Homo sapiens: one gene and its partners. The protein of the gene in region 5 interacts with the protein of the main gene of each other region in a pairwise test. Each region holds a gene or a part of one and is shown on either strand. Other genes may lie near its edges. The genes, in order: UBE2J1, GOSR2, BNIP1, TMEM167B, TM4SF19, SYS1 and CTXN3.

Region 1 (3,500 bases), on a different chromosome or scaffold from region 5:
ATACTGTCCTTGAGATCACATATAACAAACCTATTTTAAGGCTGTGAAAAAAGTCCTTTAACAAGATCAAATTATCTGTTAGCAGAAATATATATAAAGCAGTAAAGAAACTAATTAAACATAGAATTTACAGATATTTCTAGGGAAAAAAAAACCCCTCACAAATAGCAGTATAACTTGAAAGACTTGGGAGAACTTGCAGAAAATCCAAAGACTTAATTTATTGCTGATTATACATTAGGTAGAGACTCAGGATATGTCTGTTAACTAGATTATTTTCTAAAATATATTTGTTTTTCCATTTTTCCCTTTGTATTCCAGATATAGTCAAAACTTCCTTGAAGTTTACAAGAGTCCTCTGAGGATATGAATGACTGAAAGTAAACATGCATCATATATAAAACATATATTGTTACACTGTTAAACTTCCTTCTAAAAAATTGTTTTTCATAGTACTTCTAGTTCTATTAAAAAACCTTAGGTCTTGAAGAACATGCTATTTAAAATTATGAAATATCATATAAACAAAATATATGTAAAAGTAGCAATAATTTAGTTTTTCTGTTTGTTTGTTTGTTTGTTTGAGACAGGGTCTCCTCGTTCTATCACCCAGGCTGGAATGCAGTGGTGCAATCATGGCTTGCTGCAGCCTCAACCTCCCAGACCCCAGTGATCTTCCCACTTCAGCCTCCCAAGTAGCTAGGACCACAGGTGTGTGCCACCACACCCCGCTAATTTTTATTTTATTTTATTTTTTTTTTTTATTTCATTTTATTATTATTTTTTTTTTTGTAGAGACAGTGTCTCCCTGTGTTATCCAGATTGGTCCAGAACTCCTAGGCTCAAGCGATCCTCCTGCCTCAGCTTCCCAAAGTCCTGGGATTACAAGCATGAGCCACTGTGCCCAGCCTAATTTAGTATTTATTGATGAGTATTTCTTGTTTTACCAGAAGTGGCACTGTTGACCACACACCTTTGAGAATTGGTTATATACAAATTATTTGCTTCAAAATGTATTCACTTTTAACTGAGTCAGATGAACCTTAAGGGGAGTGTTTATTTTGAATGTATTAGTTTATCCACAATGGTAGCATGCTACCACGGTTGAATGCAAAAATCTTTGTTTTTTTTTTTTGAGACAAGGTCTCAACTCTGTCCCACAGGCTTGAGTGCAGTGGCACAATCATGGCTCACTGCAGTCTCAACCTCCCCAGGTCAAGCAATCCTTCCACCTCAGTCTCTAAGTAGCTGAGACTACAGGCACGTGCCACCACGCCCAGCTAATTTTTGTATTTTTTTGTAGAGCTGCAGTTTCGCCATTTTACCCAGGCTGGTCTCGAACTCCTGAACTCAAGCAATCCACCTGTCTTGGCCTGCCAAAGAGCTGGGATTACAAGTGTGAGCCACCATGCCCGGCCCAAAATCATTTTTTAAAAGGTTTCTATTATAGACTGAGAATCTAGAATATACAGTGAGAAGCCTAGAAGAACAAGAACTCCAGTTCTTTTTTTTTTTTTTTTACCTCGCACATGAAATCAACTGGATAAAGGCATCAAGATAAAAAAACCAACGTAGTAAATCGAATGAAAACAAATACTATGTATTCAAAGTACATAGTGTAATCTATGAAGAGCTGTATAAATAAAGTACATACCCATAGTTTGGAAATAAGGTTTAAAAAGAAAAGTTGCTTATAAGACCAAGAAGTCTACCAAATCTTCCAGATGCTAAAATCTAACTGATTTAGCAAATATCTGTAGAGGGCCTACTCTGGGGTGTGCTAGGGTAAAATATGATATAATTTAATTAACATAATATGTCTGAAGGGTGGTAGGCAGCAGACTCCAGAGCAGAAAAATTATCAACATCAAAAATTAGGTATCAGCACTACTCAAAGAGGGGCTACTCTGAATGGAAGGACTGATCTTGGTCATATAGACAAAAGTGCACCTGCACCTGAAAAAAACAGAGAAGGCATCACTTCTCTGTTTGTGATTGCCACTGGGCAATCACAACTTGATAAAATCTCTTTTGCTTTATTCCAGATCATTTATTAAGCACTTGCTATGAGCTAGATGCAAAGATGGATAAAGTGGATTACCTCTTGGCCCTCAAGAGGTTTGTAATCTTGTGGAAAGCTACAAATAATTGCTCTGGTTCTTTTCCATCTATAATGCCATAGTGGAAACAAATGACTGGTATTGTTTTCCAGGAGAATATATCTCCCACTGAATTTTTTAAAAATAGTGAAATAGTATCAACTACTTTTTAAGACTAGATAGCATTAAATAAATTACTTAGATTCTGGTCACTCCAAGGAAATTATTACAACTGAATTCCTAAAAGAGCAAAACTGAGATAAGATCCTGTAGCTACAGTCACTCAGAAAATAAGTCACATAGTAAGAGGTAGGCCCTACCTCCTAATAGCCATTACCCTGAATACTATTCAGACCTCAAGAAGAATGAAATGCAAAACTTACTTTTTGGCAAGTGCTCTTCTTTCCTCAGGAGTGTAATCTAGAGAACCTATGGCTCCCTCTCCTTTTGTTGGCATAAACCCAATGATGGCTAATAATGCTGTCCTTACTGAAATAAAAAAGTAAATATCAATCTAAATTGCTTTGTAAAAGCAACTGGGTTTATTCTGGAAAAAGAAAAAATCAGAGTATTATACTTCATAACTATGAATTGACTGAAGTTATGAGATTTATATTCACTATAAATTAACACTTACTACTCCACGAAGGCTGCCAAGTTTCAGGATGATGGCCTGAGATGCTCAAACAGATTTTCTTGCCCACTTCAAATCGACCATTAGCCTGAGGAATAAACAATGCATTTAGAAAATTAAATACATGTGCTTAATGTTTATACTTTCTGTAAAAATATACTATTTATATATAATAATTTTAGAGATTATCTTAAAAAGTTTGTTTTTTTTTTTTTTTTTTTTTTTTTTGAGATGGAGTCTCGCTCTGTCACCCAGGCTGGAGTGCAGTGGTGTGATATCAGCTCACTGCAAGATCCACCTCCCGGGTTCACGCCATTCTCCTGCCTCAGCCTCCCAAGTAGCTGGAACTACAGGCGCCTGCCACCAGGCCTGGCTAATGTTTTGTATTTTTAGTAGAGACGGGGTTTCACCGTGTTAGCCAGGATGGTCTCGATATCCTGACCTTGTGATCTGCCCACCTTGGCCTCCCAAAGTGCTGGGATTACAGGCATGAGCCACCGCGCCCGGCCAAAAAGATTTTTTTTTAAATGTAACCTCTCATGGGACACAGATTTTTTGTCCTTATAGACTCCAAAAATACTTGTTGGATGCTGAATAATAAAAGCTGTTTTTAGAAGGTGTTTTACAGCACCTTTTGAAACTGAGTTGCACAAGTGAAATCTAAATAATTAACATGTAAAGTTTTACTGGCCAGCGAAGTGGCTCACGCCTGTAATCCTAGCACTCTGGGAGACTGAGGCAGGAGGATCACTTGAGGCCAGGAGTTC
Region 2 (3,500 bases), on a different chromosome or scaffold from region 5:
CTCTGCCTTGGGGGCTTAATGATTCAGCGTGGAATGAGTTTTGTTGTTAGGGTGGACAGAAAAACCCTATGGCAAAGTCACTGATTTCCCTGAGTGTGCCCTTTGGAATCCCACAAGTCTTATCCCCCATTACCCCTCCACTCAACCTGACATGGCCCTATGGGAATGGAAGCGCTTGCCTCCATCTATCTTAATCTAATTACCTAGTCCTTAGAGGAATGTACTCCATAAAAATTCAGAGATGTTTAACTGGAATTGGCCATTTCTTCTGAGCTGAGAACTGTGGCTTTTTAGGAGGATTATTCAGAAACGAACAGCAATATTAATTAGTTTAGTTCCCACAGCATGGTTTCTTTTGAGAAGCATGCTGGTTTTTTGTTTTTTTTCATTTTTTTTTTTTTTTTCTATTCTGAGGAAAGGTCCTTTTTCTGAGTTGGTCATATGGACACCACCTGCGGGGGCTGCCTACCCACCCCACTGCTGGGCTCCCTCAGGACCCATTCCTCCTGTTCTCTCATGTCTCCTTTCGCAGCTTCAAAAGCAGCTCTGTTCTTGGTTCTGTGCCCCACCTTGTTCTAATCTCAACTGTCTTTGTTCACTGTGGGCACAAAGGGCTAGGAAGGGGCAGTGTCACTGCTGTCACTTCTTTATGGGGCAAGAAGCAGTCTGGATGCTTTCTTTTGTGCACAGTTTAGCTTCTTTGTTCATCGGACTTTGTTTGCCTTCTCAGCAATCTCATTGTTACATGATTAGAAATGGAAAGAGGTCATTTTGACTGTCTTATCGAAAGGGATAGGGAAAATGACCGTATTTATCGTATCTCTTTACCTCTGTGGATTCTTTCCTGGGCCTTTCCTATTGATATTTGGTTTATTTTGGGGACGTCAACATTGCTCAGCCCACCCATTCTTACAGAAAGCTTTAAGGGAAGAAAGCCTTAAGGGAACTCTTCTCTGTATGTTTCACATACTAATCTTCCCCTTCCTTTATGCTTTTTTTTTTTTAAATAAAAAAAAAAAAACTCATTACTATAGGGAATTCAATTGGCAGCCTTTTTCTAGGTATTTATAATCCACGTCTGAGAATCCCAAAGGAAAAGAGACCTATATCAGAAAATTTAGCTTAAAGTATTTATTTGGACAACCTTTGCATGTTTATTTTCTAAAGGTAGGAAATTTATTTCTACAGATTTACCTTCAGCTTTTTTAAAAAATTGGCATTGTTATGTCATTAACAGCTATATACATGTACTTTTTTCAAAACAACATTTACGGCCTAACTTGAATTTTTTCTGTTATTCATTAGTGTATACATTTTTCTCCTTTTGAAATATGTAGTTCTAGTTTATTGGATATTGAAAAAAAAATCTGTGATTTATCATTGTAATTTAAGTTCACTATCTCTTTTCCAGCAATTATTCTTTTTTCTTTTTTGTACAGTAGTAGAAAACGAAATCCAAGCAAGCATAGACCAGATATTCAGCCGTCTAGAACGTCTGGAGATTTTGTCCAGCAAGGAGCCCCCTAACAAAAGGCAAAATGCCAGACTGTAAGTGCTGACCTCTGACATGGCTCTGATACTCCAGGCCCATCAAGACAGGCTTTTCTCCCTGGGGGAGGTGATAGAATATTCTGAAAACCAACGTACATGTTGAAAAACTATGACTATGCAAAGAAAAAGCCCCCTCAAAGGGCACAATTCTATCTGAGTGATGCCGCTCAAAATAAATAGCCTGTGAGGTTTGTGACTCAGAAACCTTGTGACCCCTTACCTCTTTGGTGTCATTTTGAAATTTTGCCTCCAGTTCTGTTTTTTGACTAGATCCATAGCCACCTGAAGCCTAATGTTGCCATGGAGTTTTGTTCTGCTCTTTGGTTCCTGCTGGGTTCTTCTTGGGTTGAAATGAAAAATCACTTCAATCAGTCCACCCATAATGAAATGCTGATCTAATGTTTGATACTCCAGCATGAAATTAAAATGAAACCACCCTTGCCACCTCCACCCCCAGCGCCTGTTTCCAAAAGTTTTATGAAACTTTGTGGATGCTTTACCTCAAAGATGCCCTTGGGCTTCTTCCAGGAGAGCCATATAATCCATAGAAGGTCAAGAAGAGGTCAGTGAGCCTGCTTCCTGTCCCCTGTTCTCTGTCATGCATCCAGAATCAGAGCAACAGATTCTGAAGTCAAGCTGCTGGAATCTTGTGTGCTACCATCTCACTTTAACCACAAGTTTCTTCTTGACTTTCAACATCGTTGATCAAAATTAGATCTTGTGGTGAGGGGGTATAGTGTGGGGTGGTGTAGGGAGAAGTAAGGAAACGCCGTCTTTCCTCAGTACAAAGCCTGGCCCCCTCAGATTCTGCTGCCCTGAGTTCCTGGAATTTAATCTCTCTCTCCATCAATTCCAGTCGGGTTGACCAGTTAAAGTATGATGTCCAGCACCTGCAGACTGCGCTCAGAAACTTCCAGCATCGGCGCCATGCAAGGGAGCAGCAGGAGAGACAGCGAGAAGAGCTTCTGTCTCGAACCTTCACCACTAACGTAAGCCAGGCCCGTGGTGAGGGTCGGCCTGCACTTGACAGATCGTGGGGGCTGGAGTTCAGATCTCTGAGCGCCATCTGTTTTGGGGGTGTCTGAAGAAGACTGATGATGAGGAAACCAACTGGAAATGACAGGAACTTTGTGCATTGCCACAGAGACTAGACCTAGACAGAGAATCCCTTTTTCTAAGACAAAAACCTGAAGAGGAAGCAGTTAAATTGAAGGGGAATAGGCAGAGGTGAAAATTACCTGGTTGGGCTGGTCTGAGACAGAAAGGTGGAAGTTCACATGGTGGAAACGTTTTTCTGATCAGATAGAGACAGATGATTAGAACTTAGGCCATTTGTAGAGAAGGCAGCATTTCAAAGCTGCCTGCGGGCAGTTGCCATTGTGCCGAGTATGTGTGTGGCTCCAGTGTCAGGTGCATTAAGATGTTTTTGCCCCTAGTCTGAGCAGCAATTTGGAGGAATTTGTTAACAGATGTTTAGGGTTAGATGGACTGCTTGCCTGAGTCTGTCTGAAAGTGTGTTGGTTTGCATGTTTGATTTTTCAGAACCCATTGTCCCTGCCCTTTAGTCTTAACCAGATCATTTCCTGCACATGGCTGTAGAACATACTGGCCTTTTCTGTGTCCTGCATAATATATTCCACTAAATGAAGTGTGCTTTGGCTTTTTGTATTTTGTTTTTTTACAGAGGATTATTTTCTAAAGAGATGTTAGCTTTCTAAGCCAGTTGTTAAAATTCACATCATTTCCTGCTTTGTAGATGTTTAACCCTCAATGCTGCATCCTTGCTTTGCAATAAATTTTCCCAAGTGTTTCAGGCTGTGCCAACATAGTTTTTGCTTCCCCAGACTAAGCAGTCAAGTTACAGTGTTTAACAGTTCAAAAATTTAATGAACTATAAGACACACTAAAAGATGTTTGGATTTTAGATCGTTATAATGTAGTATTCAGGC
Region 3 (3,500 bases), on a different chromosome or scaffold from region 5:
TGCCATTCTTTCTACCCTATTCATTCATTCACTACCTCAATCCATCACACTCCTGGGTTTTTTTTTATGCTGTTACTTTGCTCAGCATCTTCCTTATTTCAATAGTCACCAGTCACATCATATACACATTTAGTATGCCTGAATTCAAGTATGGTATATGTGCTGTCTCAAAAAACACTAGAGGGTGACAAGTAGCAGTTATGTTTGTTTGTTTTATTTATTTCACATTTTATTCTTATTACATTGGGCTGGGCAAAGAGTTGTGCACCACTGTATAGATCATGTTATTCTGTTGCTTTCATTTTTAAAAATGAAAATGAGGCCAGTAGTTTGAGAACAGCCTGGCCAACATGGCAAAACCCTGTCTCTGATAAATGCAAAAATTAGCTGGGCATGGTGGCACACACCTGTAATCTCAGCTACTTAGGAGGCTGAGGCAGGAGAATCGCTTGAACCCAGGAGGTGCAGGTTGCAGTGAGCAGAGATCGTGCCACTGCACTCTAGCCTTGGTGACAGAGCAAGACTCTGTGTCAAAAAAAAAAAAAAAAAAAAAATATATATATATATATATATATATATATATATATATATATATATATATATATATTTTAATAGAGATGGATTTTTTGCTCTATGTTGCTTGAGCTGGTCTTAAACTCCTGGGCTCAAGCAATCCTCCTGCCTCAGCCTCTGAAAGTGCTGGGGTTACAGGCATGAGCCCAGACTATTGTGTTGCTTTCAGACAGAATTGGGATTCAGCTTCTAATTGTTTCCAAGTTCAGAATCTAGATCAGAATCAGAGGATGAAGACCACTTGTGGGTCTGGGGGCTGCTGAGAGGAAACACGTATGGAGCTGACTATGGAGGGGTCATGTTTCAAGGCTGCCATCTGGGCATCCAAGGATCCTGCATGCAGCTCATGGGTAGAGGGGCCCACAGCAGCCCCTCAAAGTGAATAGGGATGGCACAGGCCCAGGGCTGGAACTCAGGAGTTGGAAGGATGACTGCATCTGCACACTTAAAAAGATGCTGTCCATCTGTATCCTGGAATCCTGTGTAGGCCCTCTCCCTGAGGACAGGAACAGGGTTGGCTCCTTGGCCTCTGTTTAGCCTCATGAGTAGTTCAGTAAAAGTCCTGCAAACTTGTCATTATCTGGAGACATTCCTGCCGGCTCCTCTTCATGCCCCTCTACTTGAAGCACTAGGCAGTTGCTTTATATTGTTCATGATTCTTCTTCAGTTATTCAAATTTGAGATAATTGCATTCTTTTAGGGAACTCTGGATCTCCTGGTCACTCCAAGGGTTGATTACTGTTCTGATGGTTTTTCTGGTTTCTTGGTTTCTTCTTCCTTCTTTATTTCCTGAGGGTTTCTAGTAATTTCAGTCTGATGTCTTACGTTCTCCATTTTTATTCCTGAGTTTTCTCCTGGAATTCTTCTCACTGCAGCCACAGGACCTAATGTTGGGTTGGCAGAGAACTAGCACTTACTCTGCCCTAGTGGGACCTAGGAGAGTCAGGAGGTACCTGAGTGTGGAAACATGCCTGCTCCTCTAGACTTCTGGAGGTCTCTTAGAAGTAGCAGTTTGAATAGTGGAGATGTTTCCCCTGCTGTACCTTCAGTGAGGGTGAGGTGGGTGTCATGGATCTGCCCATCTGTATTAGTCTGTTTTCATGCAGCTGATAAAGACATACGTGAGACTGGGAAGAAAAAGAAGTTTAATGGACTTCTGACATGGCTGGGGAGGCCTCACAATCATGGCAGAAGGCAAAGAGGAGCAAGTCACGTCTTATATGGATGGCAGCAGGCAAAGAGAGAGCTTGTGCAGGGAAACTCCTGTTTTTAAAACCATCAGATCTCATGAGACTCATTCACTATCATGAGAAAAGTGCAGGAAAGACCCACCTCTGTAATTCAATCATCTCCCACCAGGTACCTCCCATGACATATTGTGAGAGTTACAATTCAAGATGAGATTTGGGTGGGGACACAGCCAAACCATATCACCATCCCTGGATGGGTCTTGTGGCACCTGGTCTTGTGGTATTGGGGTTTTGTATTAGGCCTTTCTTGCATTGCTGTAAAGAAATACCTGAGGCTGGGTAATTTATTTAAAAAAATGGGTTTAATTGGCTTAAGGTTCTGCAGGCTGTATGGGAAGCATAGCAGTATCTGCTTCTGGGGAGGCTTCAGGAAGCTTCCAGTCATGGCAGAAGGCAAAGGGAGCAGGCATGTCACATGACAAAAGCAGGAGCAAGAGAGAGATTGAGTGAGAGCTCACTTACCACTAAGGGGATGACTTATGCCATTCATTAGGGATCCACCCCCATGATCCAAACACCTCCCACCAGGCCCCACCTCCAACACTGGGGATTACCATTCAACATGAGATTTGGGCAGGGACAAATATTCAGACTATATCAGGTCTAAAGACTTGAGCTTTTTTGGCCAGCACAGTGGCTCACGCCTGTAATCCCAGCACTTTGGGAGGCCAAGGCGAGTGGATCGCCTGAGGCCAGGAGTTCAAGACCAGCCTAGTCAACATGGTCAACCTCCATCTCTACTAAAAGTATAAAAATTAGCTGGGTATGGTGACCCGTGCCTGTAATCCCAGCTGTTTGGGTGGCTGAGGCATGAGAATTGCTTGAACCTGGGAGTTGGAGGTTGCATTGAGCCAAGATTGTGCCACTGCACTCCAGCCTGGGTGACGGAGCAAGACCCTGTCTCAAAAAAAAAAAAAAAAAAGACTTGTGCTTTTCATATAACATGGCCCCCAAAGCCCACCAGCAACTCTGTTGTTGCTTAACAGAGGAAGACAGTCTGTTCTAAAGCTGGTAGAAAAGCTGGCCAGTTGGACCCCTGAGAAACAGTATGTCTGTGTCCTGTGTTTGCCTACCTCAGAGATTTTCAAGGGCAATTTTGAAAATGTGTAATTTTTGCTATTGGAGTTAACTATATGATTTTCAGCAGCGTCACCATACCTAGCTGATCTCTTCCTGCCTTCATCTCCAGTACTGATTTAATCATCTTAATTTTTTATTTTTGAAAAGATGTTCCTTTTACATGTTTTATGTATGTGTCTGTCTATAAGTATCAACATTCAGTGAAAAGTCTCAGTTATGCCCCAGTTTTGTTTTTTGTTCCACTCTTCCAAACAGGTAACCACTTTTGTTACTGATATGTCATTCCAGAGTTTCTCTACTCAAATATTTAAAAAGACAAATTTCTTTTTTTTTAAAATTTCTTCCTTGTTTCTCATCTAAAAAGTAGCATACTAACACACAGCTTTTAAAAACTTTATACTTTTGTTTTTTTGTTTTTTTTTAAGACGGAGTCTGGCTCTGTTTCCCAGGCTGGAGTGCAGGTGTGATCTCTGCTCACTGCAACCTCCACCTCCTGGGTTCAAGCGATTCTCCTGCCTCAGCCTCCCAAGTAGCTGGGATTACAGGTGTGTGCCACCACACACAGCTAATTTTTCGTATTTTTAGTACAGACGGAGT
Region 4 (3,671 bases), on a different chromosome or scaffold from region 5:
GCTCAAGGATTTTCTAGGTGTCTGGCTGGTTAACTTGTTAACTTCATTTGAATGAAGATGTTTATGACTGTTTAGAGCAGATGATACTTGTATTTTAATAGCAATAGCAGATGGAATGTATTGGGGGTGCTATCTACCTTATTTCATTCATATACCTCAATACTTATTCATTCACATATATATGAATATCTTATTCGTATATATATGAAAACTTACTACATGCATTTATATTTAGTTATATATATCTCAGCATATCATATATACATATATATATCTAGTTATAGATATCTCTAGATATATCTGTCTCAGCTGCCCTAAAGGAGAAAACTAGGCCATCATAGATTCTTAACTATATAATACATTCAATGCTCTCACAATGGGATAACAGGAATGATGGTATTTACTAATGTGAACTAAAAAGGTAGGCTATGAACTGAACCCAGGGGAGGACTGAACAAACTTCAATAAATTCAGCATGTGACAAATAAATTGACAAAGACTGTAGGGAAAAAAAGGTTTATTTTCAAGGATTTGTGCAGACAATGGTGAATAAAAAATTGTATTTCAACTATAAAAAGGAGCTGACTTCATTCCACCCTGGCCTACAGGGTTTATGGTGATGCCAGTTTGAATCTGAGGCAATACTGCTATCCCCATTCCTCCACCTGTAAAAGATTCCCCCAGAGGAATAACATTCTATAACTTTTAGTCAAAAATATGTAAGACACATCAAACAAAGTAATGAGTTAAACAAGTTTCTGCTTATCTGCTTAGGGAAAGTCAAGAAATGAAACAAATGTATATTTGTTTCTGGCTGTAAATTACCTTTACCTTGTGCACTTTTTGGTACATTCTGGTATGAAAACCTCTCAAAATGTAACAACACAAGAGTTTGGGTCAAGACGACCCACCCAGGAGGCTGTAAAAACTGGTTTGAACTAGAACTGTGGAATGGAACTAGTTTAAAATATGAAGCAGCTCTAAACACCAAGCTTAGAGACATTTGCCCTATTAGAAAACAAAAATCATTAAAGCTACAAAATAACAAGTGCAAACATGCTGAACCTGTTTCCAGGGAGTGACATTCCCTTCTGCCAACAGGTCCCAAACTCACACCCACAAGGTGTAACTCTCTTTCCTGTTCCACTAGATTTCCTTTCTCTCATCTCAAAGGTCCTCAGAAATGACAATGGAAAACGTATGAATTGTTGAAATTTACCCTGTGGACCAATTCCTGAAGAGATAACAGCCACAACTCTGAGATGATTAGACATGCAGTGTTTACTTGATGACTTTCTGTATTTCTAGAAACCCTCAAAGCATTAAACTGCCTATTTCAAAATCTAAACTTCCTAGCAGCTTTTATTATTTGGAGTAAGCAGACAGAAGACAATTTACTGCCACACAGGAATCAACCACAGCTAACTTGTCCACCATTAAGTTTTACGGTAATGGACAATTCAACTGGAAGACCCATGTCTATGCTTGCTTATAATAATTTAATTTTAGACCTACTCTTTTTTTTTAAATAGAGAAGTTCTAGACATCCAACAGCTGATCCTTCCATAGATATAAGCAGGGAATGGAGAAGTCTTCCTGCCAAATGCTGAGCCATCTAAAATGGTCTGCTCAGGAGTTACTAACTCCATGGCAAAGTACTTCAGTATCAATTGCAAAGTTCTGTTTTCTTCTACTTCAGGAAACAACCTCATTTGATTTGTGGACCCTATGAACTGTCCAAACACACTGATGAATATCAGCAACTTCTCTCATTTGAATTTCTCATGTCCTTAAAGTAAATAGAATTTCCAGAGACAACTAAAGAGCAATGCAATATGAAGAAAATTAAAATTTGGCTAAGAAAAATAAGTAATCAACTAAAAATTGCCATAACACTCAGACTTAAACAGAAAATAAGTTTGTTGTCTTTTATAAGATGACAAAACTTCAATCTAACATCACAAGTTCTTATACTAGATGAATTTACTAGTATATGAATCAATATACTAGATTTCTTTCTTCTACCCCAACTGCAAATATACTAAACAATTATTTCTTCAATAGTTTCTTTTTCCCCTAGTCGTGGCATTTAAAACTGAGTAACAGTATTTAGCACTAAGTAAATTTAGAAAATATAAAAAGGTTTTACGAAATAGCAATAGTTGATTCATTTTTCATATACCATCTGATCAAGTGAAGTCTCCATTTGAGGATACTGGTGAACAGAAAGATTTTTTCTTGTCTAAGCCACTGCTTTCTGGTCTCATCACACAGATAATTCTCAAATTTTATGTAGGCCCAGATTTTCTTGGCAAAACTCTCAAGATACCAGCACATAACACAGCTACTTCATCTGTTCTCTTTTTGCAATGAGCACTATGCCTCTCTTTTATGTTCCCGGATGGGTACATGAAAGATAAATTTCTAAAGCCAAAGAATTTCTTGGCATTTCATAACTGTTTCCCACCCAGCATCCCCTCCCCAATTTGCCAGATCCAAATCAAAGAGTGAAAAGAAGTCTTGAAAATTCTCTCTCTTCAAAAGAAGTCTGAACACAGCCTAGTTCCTTCCCTAATGAGCCTCAGTTTGAAAAGATCCTGATGAGGAGCTGAAGAACAAAACAGGATGACAGGTTTTTATGAAGGAGGTATGTAATCTTATCACCGAGGGGTGTAATTTATCCGGACATTATATGCACTCTGCCAAGGACTGATTTACACATAGATCAAAGGAAGCTGGCTTTCTGTAGTCCCCTGAAGCATAAATAATGTTCGTGACCATGAGTTTTCCCCACATATAGCAGGGGCAGATGCTGTGGTGTCATCCTGGGGACCGATGATTTCAGCTGAACTCTCCTACACTGGGTTCAGGTCTCCAACAGGTTCTTCATCCCCGTCCCCTTGGTTGGCAGTTGATGACTTGGGTGCTTTGGAATTCATTTTATAAACAGGACGTAAAAGGCCATTACAACACAAGCAATTGCCACAGCAGCATGCAGCCTGGTTCCAATCACAGCGGCTAGCAGGCAAAAGAGAGAAGAAATCACACCCTGCCCTTCACCGAAGTCCTCACTTTCAAGGTGATATTTTGAAGTCTCTAGTCACAGACAGACATATCAACGCTCTCAAGGGCCTGGGATGTTTTTATTTTATTTTTGGAGGCAGTCTCACTCTGTCGGCCAGGCTGGAGTGCAGTGGCGCGATCTCGGCTCACTGCAACCTCTGCCACCCGGGTTCAAGCAATTCTCCTGCCTCAGCCTCTTGAGTAGCTGAGATTACAGGCGCCTGCCACCATGCCCAGCTAATTTTTGTATTTTTAGTAGAGATGGGGTTTCACCATCTTGGCCAGGCTGGTCTTGAACTCTTGACCTCAGGTGATCCACCCACCTTGGCCTCCTAAAGTGCTGGAATTACAGGCGTGAGCCACCGTGCCCGGCTCCCTGGCTAATTTTTGTATTTTTAGTAGAGACAGGGTTTCACCATGTTGGCCAGGCTGGTCTCGAACTCCTGACCTTGGGTGATCTGCCCTCCTCGGCCTCCCAAAGTGTTGGGATTACAGGCATGAGCCACCGCATCCGGCCTCTGAGATGTTTCTAAATGCTATCCTTATGCTTTAGGGTCTAGGTGAATATACTGTTTGTTTATATTTTGTCCTTTTTCAAAAAAAAATTT
Region 5 (3,500 bases):
GCTAGGATGACAGGCGTGAGCCACTGCACTTGGCCACTTGAGGCTCTTGACACGCCTATAACACACTGCTTTGCACCTAATCAGAAAATATGTGTATAGAGGCCAGGCACGGTGGCTCACGCCTGTAACCCCAGCACTTTGGGAGGCTGAGGTGGGTGGATCACGAGGTCAGGAGTTTCCGACCAACCTGGCCAACATGGTGAAACCCCGTCTCTACTAAAAATACAAAAAAATTAGCTGGGCATGGTGGCGGGTGCCTGTGGTCCCAGCTACTCGGGAGGCTGAGGCAGTAGAATGGCGTGAACCTGGGGGGCTGAGATCACGCCAGTGCACTCCAGCCTGGGCAAGAGAGTGAGATTCGGTCTCAAAAAAAAAAAATTAACTGCGTGGTGGTGTGCGCCTGTAATCCAAGCTACTCAGGAGCTTGAGGCAGGAGAATCGCTTGAGCCCGAGAGGCAGAGGTGGCAGTGAGCCCAGATCACGCCACTGCACTCCAGCCTGGGTGACAGAGCAAAAGAGAGAGAGAGAGAGGAGGGAGAGAGGGAGGGAGGGAGGGAGGAAGGAAGAAAGGAAAGGAAGGAAGGAAAGAGGAAGGGGAAGGGGAAGGGAAGAAAAAAAATATATATATATATAAAAGATATGGATCAGAGGCTCTATATATATGCACACACACATATATATCATATACATATAATGTATAATGTGCGTATATATGTGTGTACGTACACACACACACACACACAATAGTCCCCCATATCTGCAGGGGATATGTTCCAAGAGCTCCAGCGGATACCTGAAACCACAGATCATACCAAACTCTGTATATTCAGATGCTTCTCCACTTATGATGGGGTCGAACTCCTATAAACCCGTTGTAAGTCAAAATATCCTAAGTTCAAAAGGCATTTAATGCTGGCAACACAGTAGACTGTCCCTGACTCACAATGGTTCAACTTACAATTTTTTTTTTTTTTTTTTTTTTGAGACAGGGTCTTGCTCTGTCACCCAGGCTGGAGTGCAGTAGCACAATCATTGTTCACTGCAGCCCTGATCTGGGCTCAAGTGATCCTCCCACCTCAGTCTCTCGGATAGCTGAGACCGCAGGCATGCGCCACCATACCTGGCTAATGTTTTAGTTCTATAGAGACAGGGTCTCACTATGTTGCCCAAGCTGATCTCAAACTCCTGGCCTCAAGTGATCCTCTCACCTCCACCTCCCAAAATGTTGGGATTACAGGCGTAAGCCACCACGCCCAGTCCCAATTTACTTTTGACTTTGTGATGGTGCAAAAGCAATGAGTATTCAGTAGAAACCGTAATCCCATCATAAAGGGTAAGGAGTTCACTGATGATGGAGTTAGGTCCCTAGAAACCTGTCGTAAAGTTGGAAACTTAGAAGTCAAACCACTATAAGTAGAGGACTGTCTGTACTATGCTTTTTCCTATACATACATATCTGTAATAAAGTTTAATTTATAAATCAGGCATAGTAAGAAGTTCGCAACAATAATAATAAAATAGAACAGTTATAACAACATACTGTAATGAAAGTTATGTGAATGTGGTCTTTCTCATTGAAAATATTTTATGTAAGTTTTTTGAACTGCAGTTGACCACAGATAGCTAAAACTTTGGAAAGCAAAGCTTCAGTTAAGGGGGGATTACTTTACATCACACATAAATAATGAAATATTTCACAGCATGAAGAATTAAACATTGGGGGAGGGCCAGGGCTGAAAAACTATCTGTAGGTACCGCGCTCACTACCTGAGTGACGGGAATCACTCATACCCTAACCTCAACATCACACAATAGACACGGAACAAGCCTGTATATGTATCCCCGGATCTAAAATAAAAGTTGAAATTATATTTTTAAAATTTGCATTAAAGGCCAGGTGCAGTAGTTCACGCCTATAATCCCAGCACTGTGGGAGGCCGAGGCGGGTGGATCACTTGAGGTCAGGAGTTCAAGACAGCCTGGCCAACCTGGCGAAACCTCATCTCTACTAAAAATACAAAACTTAGCTGGGAATGGTGGTGTGCGCCTGTAATCCCAGCTACTCAGGAGGCTGAGGCAGAAGAATCACTTGAACCTGGGAGGCAGAGGTTGCAGTGAGCCAAGATCGCACCACTGCACTCCAGCCTGGACCACAGATCGAGACTCCGTCTCAAAAAAAAAAAATTGCATTAAAAAAGAATTAAACATAATGTGTAAAATATATTTGTAACTTGTGTGAGATAATTAACACCCATGTAAACACAACCAATATCAAACATACGTCATTACCCATCACATCACTGACACTCAGGTGTGCCCTCTCCAATCCTGCCTTCTTTCTGGATTCCTTCCTAGGAACTACTATCCTATATTTCATCTTCAACATATCCTTTTAAAAACAGTTTTACGACTTAGGAACTCAGAATTGTTTTAGAAACTTGTTTAGTCGGGTGTTTTCCATTTTTCAAGACTGTAGCTTTTCTTTTCTTTTTCTTTTTTTTTTTGAGATGGAGTCTTGCTCTGTCTCCCAGGCTGGAGCTCAGAAACAGACCCGGTCCAGGATAAATAATTTTTTTTTTTCTTGAGACAGAGTCTCACTCTGTCGCTCAGGCTGGAGTGCAGTGGCGCGATCTCAGCTCACTGCAACCTCCGCCTCCCCGGTTCAAGCGATTGTTCTGCCTCAGACTCCCCAGTAGCTGGGACTACAGCTGCACACCACCATGCCCGGCTAATTTTTGTATTTTTAGTAAAGACAGGGTTTCACCATGTTGGCCAGGCTGGTCTTGAACTCCTGGTCTCAAGTGATCCTCCTGCCTCGGTTTCCCAAAGTGCTGGAATTACAGGTGTGAGCCACCAAACCCGGCCAGACTGTAGCTTATGGTAAAGAAGACAAGGGGAGGGGTGCCCTGGGAGGGTGGGGGTAGGAGAGAGGAAGGGTGCCCTGAGAAGGTGGGGGTTAGGAGAAGGGAGGGGTGCACTGGGAGGGTGGGTGTAGGAGAGGGAAGGGTGCCCTGAGAAGGTGGGGGTTAGGAGAAGGGAGGGGTGCACTGGGAGGGTGGGTGTAGGAGAGGGAAGGGTGCCCTGAGAAGGTGGGGGTTAGGAGAAGGGAGGGGTGCACTGGGAGGGTGGGTGTAGGAGAGGGAAGGGATGCCCTGAGAAGGTGGGGGTTAGGAGAAGGGAGGGGTGCACTGGGAGGGTGGGGGTAGGAGAGGGAAGGGATGCCCTGAGAAGGTGGGGGTTGGAGAGGGGAGGGGTGCTCTGGGAGGGTGGGGGTAGGAGAGGGGAGAGGTGCCCTGGGAGGGTGGCCAGAGGACAGGGGAGGAGTGCACAGGGAGAGTGGGGGTAGGAGAGGGGAGGGATGCACGGGGAGGGTGGAGGTAGCAGAGGGGAGGGGTGCATGGGGAGGGTGGGGGCAGGAGAGGGCAGGGGTGCTTGGGGAGGGGTTGTAGGAAAGAGGAGGGGTGCACTGGGAGGGTGGGGGTAGGAGAGGGGAGGGGTGC
Region 6 (3,554 bases), on a different chromosome or scaffold from region 5:
GACTCATTTGGCATTGAACCTCAGCTTTACTACTAGTCTAGTGACTTTGGACAAGTTAATCTACCACAGTTGCCTCATCAGTAAAATGGGGCTAGTAATATTACCTACCTCATAGTTGTAAGGATTAAATAAGTTAATTCACAAGAAGGACTTAGAACAGTGCCTTGCATGTTATTATTATTCTTGTCCTTACACCGGAGGTTGAAAACTGGTGGGCTGACTTTGACCTAAATTTGTCTTCCAGATAGGTTCTATTTGGCTTACATAGATGTCAGCCCACACATGGTGTTTAAAACATTTTTTTCACTTAGTTGAAAATCAGGCTATTTTATATAAAAATCCAGATTTCTGGCTTCTCTTGAATAATGGAATGACTGACTGATTCCAGGCCAACCTTCTAGCATGATAAGATTTGCCTAGATGCAAGTAGCTACTGCCCCCCTTTAGCTAGAACATGTATGCTTCAGGGTGTCATGATCCCCACCAATTCCTAGGATCCCCTAGTGACAATTGCCATCGATCATCAAGCTCATACTCAGTCAGCTTCACTCTTGACATTACCCGCCAGGTTCTTCTAGGCGTCTGGTATCATAACCCTTGCTTCACACTTATCTCGTCACTTCTGACCACTATGCTGCCGTCCTAATTGTCCCTACCCTCCCAAATAACCTAAGGCCAGGACAACCCAGTGACAACTCACTGCTGTCCTCTCCCCACAGTGCCCTGGGCTTGCTGTACTTCATCCGGCGAGGAAAGCAGTGTCTGGATTTCACTGTCACTGTCCATTTCTTTCACCTCCTGGGCTGCTGGTTCTACAGCTCCCGTTTCCCCTCGGCGCTGACCTGGTGGCTGGTCCAAGCCGTGTGCATTGCACTCATGGCTGTCATCGGGGAGTACCTGTGCATGCGGACGGAGCTCAAGGAGATACCCCTCAACTCAGCCCCTAAATCCAATGTCTAGAATCAGGCCCTTTGGACATCCTGCTGACACTTGGGCCCCTTAACACCTTGGGCTGCTCAGACCCTCCAGATGAGGTCCAGCCCAGATCTGAGAGGAACCCTGGAAATGTGAAGTCTCTGTTGGTTTGGGAGAGATAGTGAGGGCCTGTCAAAGAAGGCAGGTAGCAGTCAGCATGACAGCTGCAAGAATGACCTCTGTCTGTTGAAGCCTTGGTATCTGAGAGGTCAGGAAGGGGACCTCTTTGAGGGTAATAACAGAATTGGAACCATGCCACTCTTGAGCCACAATACCTGTCACCAGCCTGTTGTTTTAAGAGAGAAAAAAAATCAAGGATATCTGATTGGAGCAAACCACTTCTTTAGTCATCTGTCTTACCCCCCTGGGACAGCTGTTACCTTTGCAGTGTTGCCGAATCACAGCAGTTACCTTTGCAGTGTTGCCGAATCACAGCAGTTCTGTTGGAGAAACGCTTGGTTTCCGGATCCAGAGCCACAGAAAGAAATGTAGGTGTGAAGTATTAGGCTGCTGTCAGGGAGAGGATGGCAGATGGAGGCATCAAGCACAAGGAAAATGCACAACCTGTGCCCTGTTATACACACGTTCATGTGCACCCAAGAACCTATGACTTTCTTCCAGTTCCTTCTACCAGGTCCCCATCCTGCTGCCAGCTCTCAACATAGCAGGCCATAGGACCCAGAGAAGAATCCCAGCGTTGCTCAAAGTCTAACCATCATAAAGACACTGCCTGTCTTCTAGGAATGACCAGGCACCCAGCTCCCACTGGACTCCAATTTTTTTTCCTGCCTTATTTAGAATTCTTTGGCGGGAAGGGTATGATGGGTTCCCAGAGACAAGAAGCCCAACCTTCTGGCCTGGGCTGTGCTGATAGTGCTGAGGGAGATAGGAATTTGCTGCTAAGATTTTTCTTTGGGGTGGAGTTTCCTCTGTGAGGGGCTTGCAGCTATCCTTCCTGTGTATACAAATACAGTATTTTCCATGGTTCTGCCTGCACTTACTTTGTAATGCCACGGTTGAGATTGAGAGAGATCAGCGCAGCCAGGCAAGGGAACTTTAAAGAATTATTAGGCCACCTTCTCCCTTTCCTGGACCCCAGAGTCATTCCTCCATTTGGTTAAAATACTCAGTGCAGGGAACTCTTACATCCTGTCTCCTTCACTTGCAGCGTCCCCTGCTATGCCTCAGGTGAACCACATAATTCTTGGGTTTCCGTTCCTACTTGCTAGTGATTTCTGAACATGTTCAATGGAGCGGCACACAGTCTAGACCCACTTCCGCATTGAAACCTTCACTGTTCCTCTTTGGTTTCTTCAGAGCTTTCCCAAGAGAGCTGTCAGTTTTCAGCTGTCAGTAACACAAATGAGTTTATGGTAACACAAATGAGTTTTGCTATCTCTCTGAGAAGCTCATCTGACCTCCTGACTCTCAGCCCTACAGAGTAGGGAGTTGATGCTGACAGGATGAAGATTTAGGAATAAATATGCCTGGGAAGAGACTGGGAAGGTTCTAGGGTGAGGCACCTCAGTAACTCATGGTACCTTGGCCAAGTTGGAAGGAAGCAGTTTGTTAATGAGGCACAGTAATCCTGGCTGCAGGGTCTAGGAGGTAAGACCAGCTGGGATGACCTTCCCTGGGTTAATCAATTTCCCTCTAGACAACACAAACTGCAGGCATGTGACTAACTTTGAAAGAACACCCATCATGTGGCTGCTGTCACCCTTGACCAGCCGTGGTGGTGGTTACTCCATCTGTGGTTGGAGCGCCTCTTTGGGATTCACTTCAAGGTCTTGTGCCTATTTTTCTGCATATCTTCTGTGATGACAAATCTCTGTCCCCTGAGTGTTAATTTGATTTTTAGAAATGGCCAAAAGTCACGTGATCCAAACTTTTTTTCAGTAATATGGAGACTGAGCTGCATGGTAGTTGGGGATCAAAAATATGTGACCTTAATGAGATTTTTATGATTTCTAAAGTAACAATAAAAGCAGTTTTTAGAGTTGAGTTCCAGAGAGGGCAGGGCAATGGCAGTGACATGTTTGTCATTTTAATAATAAATAACATCTATTGAGTGCTTAAGAGGTGTCCAGCAGTGTGGGCTGAGTGCTTTATGTCTCTTTTCAAAATCTTCACAAGAACCCTCTGAAGTAAGAAGTAACGTCATCTGTATCTTACAGATGAGGGAGCTGTAAGGAACTTACCCAAGGTGACTTTTTAGGAGCTGGCAGAGCCAGGATTTGGGCTCTAATAGTGATATTAATAAGCTCATTTTGAAGAGGTCAGTAGTTAGGGATGTATAAGTTCTGACTGGCTAAACAGTCTGGTTAAATAGTTTATCACCTTATAATCATATCTTCTTGTCCTGTCAATTTTTTTAAATACCGAGGATGAATAGTACTTTATAAACATTACTAGCTTTCTAAGAAAAGCTGATATGCAGTACATTAAATATAGCCAGAGATTTCCTTTTTTTTTTTTTTTTTTTTTTTTGAGGCAGGGTCTTACTCTGTCACCCAGGCTGGAGTGCACTGGTGTGATCTTGGCTCATCATAGCCTCAACCTCCCAGGCTCAATGATCC
Region 7 (4,034 bases), on a different chromosome or scaffold from region 5:
TTCTCTGAAGAAAATGTATCTTAAAGCAATGACATGTTTCTTTTCTTTTTTTTTTTTAAGTGACAGCGACAGAATTACTTAAGTGCATTGGACACCTTGTTCTGTGGAGCCACACACAGGGACTTGATTCTACAGGTCATCAACTCAAGAGCCCACCCTTTTGCAATAGGGTGCAATGATCTAATTAATAGTTGCAGTACCTGTGTAGTCCTGCCTGGCACATAGTGGGGATTTGATAAGTAGGTGGGGATGAATGAGTGTTTTCTTTTTACACCATTTTTGTGCAAAATGTTATTTATTTTTAATTTCTATTATGTGATCAAGCACACTAAGGTATGAAAATTATAAATAAACTGCCCAGAATTATAAAAATCGTTACCAAAAAGGTAGCACCACCCCCTACCACCCCAACGCCAAATGATGGTAGATCCCTAGTTTTTCACTGGCACGTTGGAATGAATTGAAGGTGTCATCCCTCAGGTGTTAACGGCCTGTAGGGTGCAGTGAAGCAATGCTGTCTGTATTTTAAATATTCCTAAACCACATAATTGCAGTACCTAATTTTTAAAACTTCTGGATCAGAAACCTAGTTACGTGACTTGACGTGGTTTCAAAAGTAGGTGTCAAAACAGCCCATCCATTGAGCAAGGACACTCTTGGGCTTGTCCAGTTTCCATTCACATGTGATAGACAGGACACTTTATCCTGCAAAGATATACTATCAACCTTATTTATATTTATCTGGCAGACTAGCGAGACCAATCTTTAGACTTTAACAGGAACGGAATTGCCTAGCTAGGCAGGACTGAATTTGCGGTGACCAACAGAGACAAACTTACTCAAAATGCTGCATTATTCTGCAACAGTTCTGAAGTTAACTGTGGAAATGTTAACATGGCTTTGAATGATTCAAGTAATACACATCCTGATACTGAGCCTAAATAGAATCCCTCTCTACTTTTAGCACTAAAGGAAGCCTGGGCTGCATTCCTGTTTGTATAACTGTAGTCTCTCAAAGTACATTTCATTCTCCAACCCACTCACCCACCCTAGATGTGTAAATCTCCCAAATGATCCTATTATCCATCCCCACCACAACTGTGAGTCATCTGTATAAGCCACCTCGTTATCTAAGCAACAGAATCACCACATAAGCAAATATTATTCCCCTACAAATCTTTTAGAAATTCTGTGTATTATTCTAGTGAACAGTAACTTGCATTCAGGATATACACACAAAGATACAAAATATTTCATATAAATTCAAAGAATTCATGGCCCTCTTGCTTACCAGCAAAGAACTTCAGGTAAAGATTTCCTGGCTCTTTCTAGGTGTTTCATAGATTTTAAATCCTCCCACTCCCCTTGTTTTTGGCTCATATACACGGCAACATCTCTATATTTTTTTCCAAGTACAGCCCTCCTGTTCCAATACAATAGCCCTGATGCTTCAAAATTCAAAGGGGGGCTAAGGGTAAATATATTTTATACTCTCAAAACATAGACTCAAGTCTACTAGAAAGCCTACGAACAATGATTTCATAAACATGAGGATGTCTTCAGCTACAGATGTCAACAGGCAGTTTCAGAACTGTTGCCAGCCCCCACTGCTGCACTGGGAAGTCTGTTCTCTGCTTGTTTCTGCAAAGTCAGCCTGCAGACACGTCTGCTTGGGCTGGGAGTGGACCCTGTTATTCTCAACTCACTGCTGCTTTTAAGCTCTGGGTCAGCAGGAGACCTTTGTCTTCAGCCTCAGCCCCAATCTCAGCTTTACTTCTTCCCCATCTTCATCTTCCTCTTAATATCTGCTTGAGGAATTTTTAAGGGACTGCAGGGCAAGGCTACTGCCTAGCTGAGAACATCAGAAAACACCATGAGGGTGCCTAGTCAGGAATCGGTGGTATCAGAAGGCACCCTTAACGAACTGGAACTTTTAACTTCAAATAATAAGCCCTACTGTTCCACCTGGTTTTCTTTGTCTTTCTTTGTGTGTTTCATAGTGAAAACGGCTACTTGCTGATATCTCAAAAGGATAGTGCTGCACACAGCTTATCAGCCAGGGACAGTCAACGCTGTCAATATGAGTGGTTGAGTTGTGATCCTTTGTAAACAAATCAGAACATCCTTGTTACATTTTGGAAGGTTGGACGTTTTAGGTGACTGAAAAAAAAAATACGATAATGGGCAAACAGCTTTCAGAAATAAATTACTGCAGCTTAGGAAAGAAAAAAAAGCCTGTTTTACTACTTCTTCATCCAGTATCAATAACATTATAAACTTAACCATGCTTTAAAAATAAAGGCATCATTACATTTTACCCCCTCGCTTCTTAACTTTATCTAGCAATTGTTTAATTAGACTTATCTAACAGCTAGATCTAAATTCACAACTATGATCCGAAAGGCATGTATGCGATGATTGCTCATGCATCAATTGTAAAGTTAGAGAAAAGCATTTAATTAGCCCGTCAAAGATACAGGTTGGGTCAAGTACCTGGCTCTGGCTGAACAAACACTTGATCCATTTCCTGGTGGAACAGTTACAGGTAGTTACAAGCCTCTTTAGTTTCCATTCTTCCCGACCACGCTGTGTGAAAGCAGTAGACAGTGGTAGCTGCAAGGCAGCTGATGGCACACCCCAGGTCTAAAGCTGTTGTTTCAGGCTTAGAAACTTCCCATTAAAACCCCGAGTTAAAGGAGCATCGTCTTTCTGTGTGAGGCATCATTAACGGCCAATACTGCTGCTTCTTTGAGGTGAGCCATGATTTCAGTTCTGCCTCAGCAACTCTTCAGAGGATTCTGCTTCAGCGAGTAGAGGCAGTATCCTAGCAGTGTGTCTGAAATCATCTTCAAGAAAGCATTAACATTCAAAAGGAGTACGGGGTTGGGGGGTGGGGAAACATCACAGGCATTCCTATACCTTTTCAAAATCAAAGCCATAAATCTACCAGTGCTCTGTCCTCTTTATTGATTGTTGACACTATTCCTCTTTGGGAGTGTCAATTAGCACGTCGCAGCAAGTCTTCATATTGATTATTGTTGATGACCTTCAGGCCAACTCAATTAACAGGAAGACTTCTGGGGAAGGGCATCAACTTAGCATTTGGGAGAGGGAGAAAAGGCTCATTTTCCTAAAGAAAACTAAAGTGACCTTTCCAAAAAGCAGCATTTATGGGAAGGAAAGAACCATTTAAAAATATCAAAATCATAGTTTCACCACCTGTCACCTGCTTGTAAATTAGCTGGGCAGTTGGTTGCCAGGTCCAGTGTCTCTCTGAGCAGCCTGCATAATTGTGGCATTGGGAAAGCCCCCACCCCACACAGGGCACCTGAGACCACTCGATGAATAAAGAAGATTGATTTTTGTGAGAGAAAGTTGTTCTCATTCTGCAGATTCTAGTTACTTGCTACAATGCTTAAATTACTTTCGTTGGATAAGTAAATTTGGAAAATATTTTAGGATAAAATTCTTCATTAAAAAAACACTTCTCTAAGAAGAATTCAGCCTAATGCTTAAGACGGAGCATCCTTGTTTTTTGGCAACTCACCACTTTCTTTGTTGAAGTGGCGGCACAGTTAGCGACAACACACCCACCCACCAAATGATGGGGTGCGTGATATTTAAAGCTGCCTCTGACTGTGCCTGTCAGCTATGCTGTCTCCTCAGCTCTTGTGAGCAACCGGCCATTACCCAAAGGCTCTAGGAAACTGGAACCAAGCTCATCTTCTAAGAGGGAAACCCCATCTGCTCACAACGGACCACAATCCTGGATAGGATAGGCCTCGGACCCCAAAGGAACCTTTCAAATCAAATGCTAAATGTTAGGATCGAATGCTTGATGTTAGAGTCTAACCTCAAGACAATATGCAGGTTCTTTCCCCATTTGTTTTCCTAATTTTTAACTGAATTTTCTTTCCAATTCATTTTACTTACCCTATTTTCAGACACACACATACCACACACCGTAAGACAATGGGACACATGAAATCCAACTGAGCACGATCATCCTGTACTAACTGGCATCCCTCTTGCAT

The links.
Region 1: the proteins of TM4SF19 (region 5) and UBE2J1 interact in binary tests that used the Homo sapiens proteins (3 or more experiments, as listed by UniProt).
Region 2: the proteins of TM4SF19 (region 5) and GOSR2 interact in binary tests that used the Homo sapiens proteins (3 or more experiments, as listed by UniProt).
Region 3: the proteins of TM4SF19 (region 5) and BNIP1 interact in binary tests that used the Homo sapiens proteins (3 or more experiments, as listed by UniProt).
Region 4: the proteins of TM4SF19 (region 5) and TMEM167B interact in binary tests that used the Homo sapiens proteins (3 or more experiments, as listed by UniProt).
Region 6: the proteins of TM4SF19 (region 5) and SYS1 interact in binary tests that used the Homo sapiens proteins (3 or more experiments, as listed by UniProt).
Region 7: the proteins of TM4SF19 (region 5) and CTXN3 interact in binary tests that used the Homo sapiens proteins (3 or more experiments, as listed by UniProt).

What each region holds. Positions count from the first base shown.
Region 1 is NC_000006.12:89,335,723-89,339,222, forward strand, and holds part of UBE2J1 (ubiquitin-conjugating enzyme E2 J1), read right to left. Parts: intron 2,822-3,500; coding exon 2,737-2,821; intron 2,589-2,736; coding exon 2,483-2,588; intron 1-2,482. UniProt on the Homo sapiens protein: Catalyzes the covalent attachment of ubiquitin to other proteins. Functions in the selective degradation of misfolded membrane proteins from the endoplasmic reticulum (ERAD) and is essential for cells to recover from ER stress.
Region 2 is NC_000017.11:46,929,660-46,933,159, forward strand, and holds part of GOSR2 (Golgi SNAP receptor complex member 2), read left to right. Parts: intron 1-1,439; coding exon 1,440-1,548; intron 1,549-2,407; coding exon 2,408-2,540; intron 2,541-3,500. UniProt on the Homo sapiens protein: Involved in transport of proteins from the cis/medial-Golgi to the trans-Golgi network.
Region 3 is NC_000005.10:173,147,531-173,151,030, forward strand, and holds part of BNIP1 (vesicle transport protein SEC20), read left to right. Parts: intron 1-3,500. UniProt on the Homo sapiens protein: As part of a SNARE complex may be involved in endoplasmic reticulum membranes fusion and be required for the maintenance of endoplasmic reticulum organization. Also plays a role in apoptosis.
Region 4 is NC_000001.11:109,093,764-109,097,434, reverse strand, and holds the end of TMEM167B (protein kish-B isoform 1 precursor), read right to left. Parts: intron 3,019-3,671; coding exon 2,936-3,018; coding exon of another isoform or gene 2,856-2,935; 3' UTR 501-2,855; downstream 1-500. UniProt on the Homo sapiens protein: Involved in the early part of the secretory pathway.
Region 5 is NC_000003.12:196,331,889-196,335,388, forward strand, and holds part of TM4SF19 (transmembrane 4 L6 family member 19), read right to left. Parts: intron 1-3,500. UniProt on the Homo sapiens protein: Negatively regulates vacuolar (H+)-ATPase (V-ATPase) activity by interacting with members of V-ATPase V0 complex and hence inhibiting V1-V0 complex assembly. Required for multinucleation during osteoclast differentiation.
Region 6 is NC_000020.11:45,366,156-45,369,709, forward strand, and holds the end of SYS1 (protein SYS1 homolog), read left to right. Parts: intron 1-719; coding exon 720-960; 3' UTR 961-3,054; downstream 3,055-3,554. UniProt on the Homo sapiens protein: Involved in protein trafficking. May serve as a receptor for ARFRP1.
Region 7 is NC_000005.10:127,647,848-127,651,881, reverse strand, and holds the start of CTXN3 (cortexin-3), read right to left. Parts: upstream 2,801-4,034; 5' UTR 2,494-2,800; intron 140-2,493; exon of another isoform or gene 61-139; intron 1-60.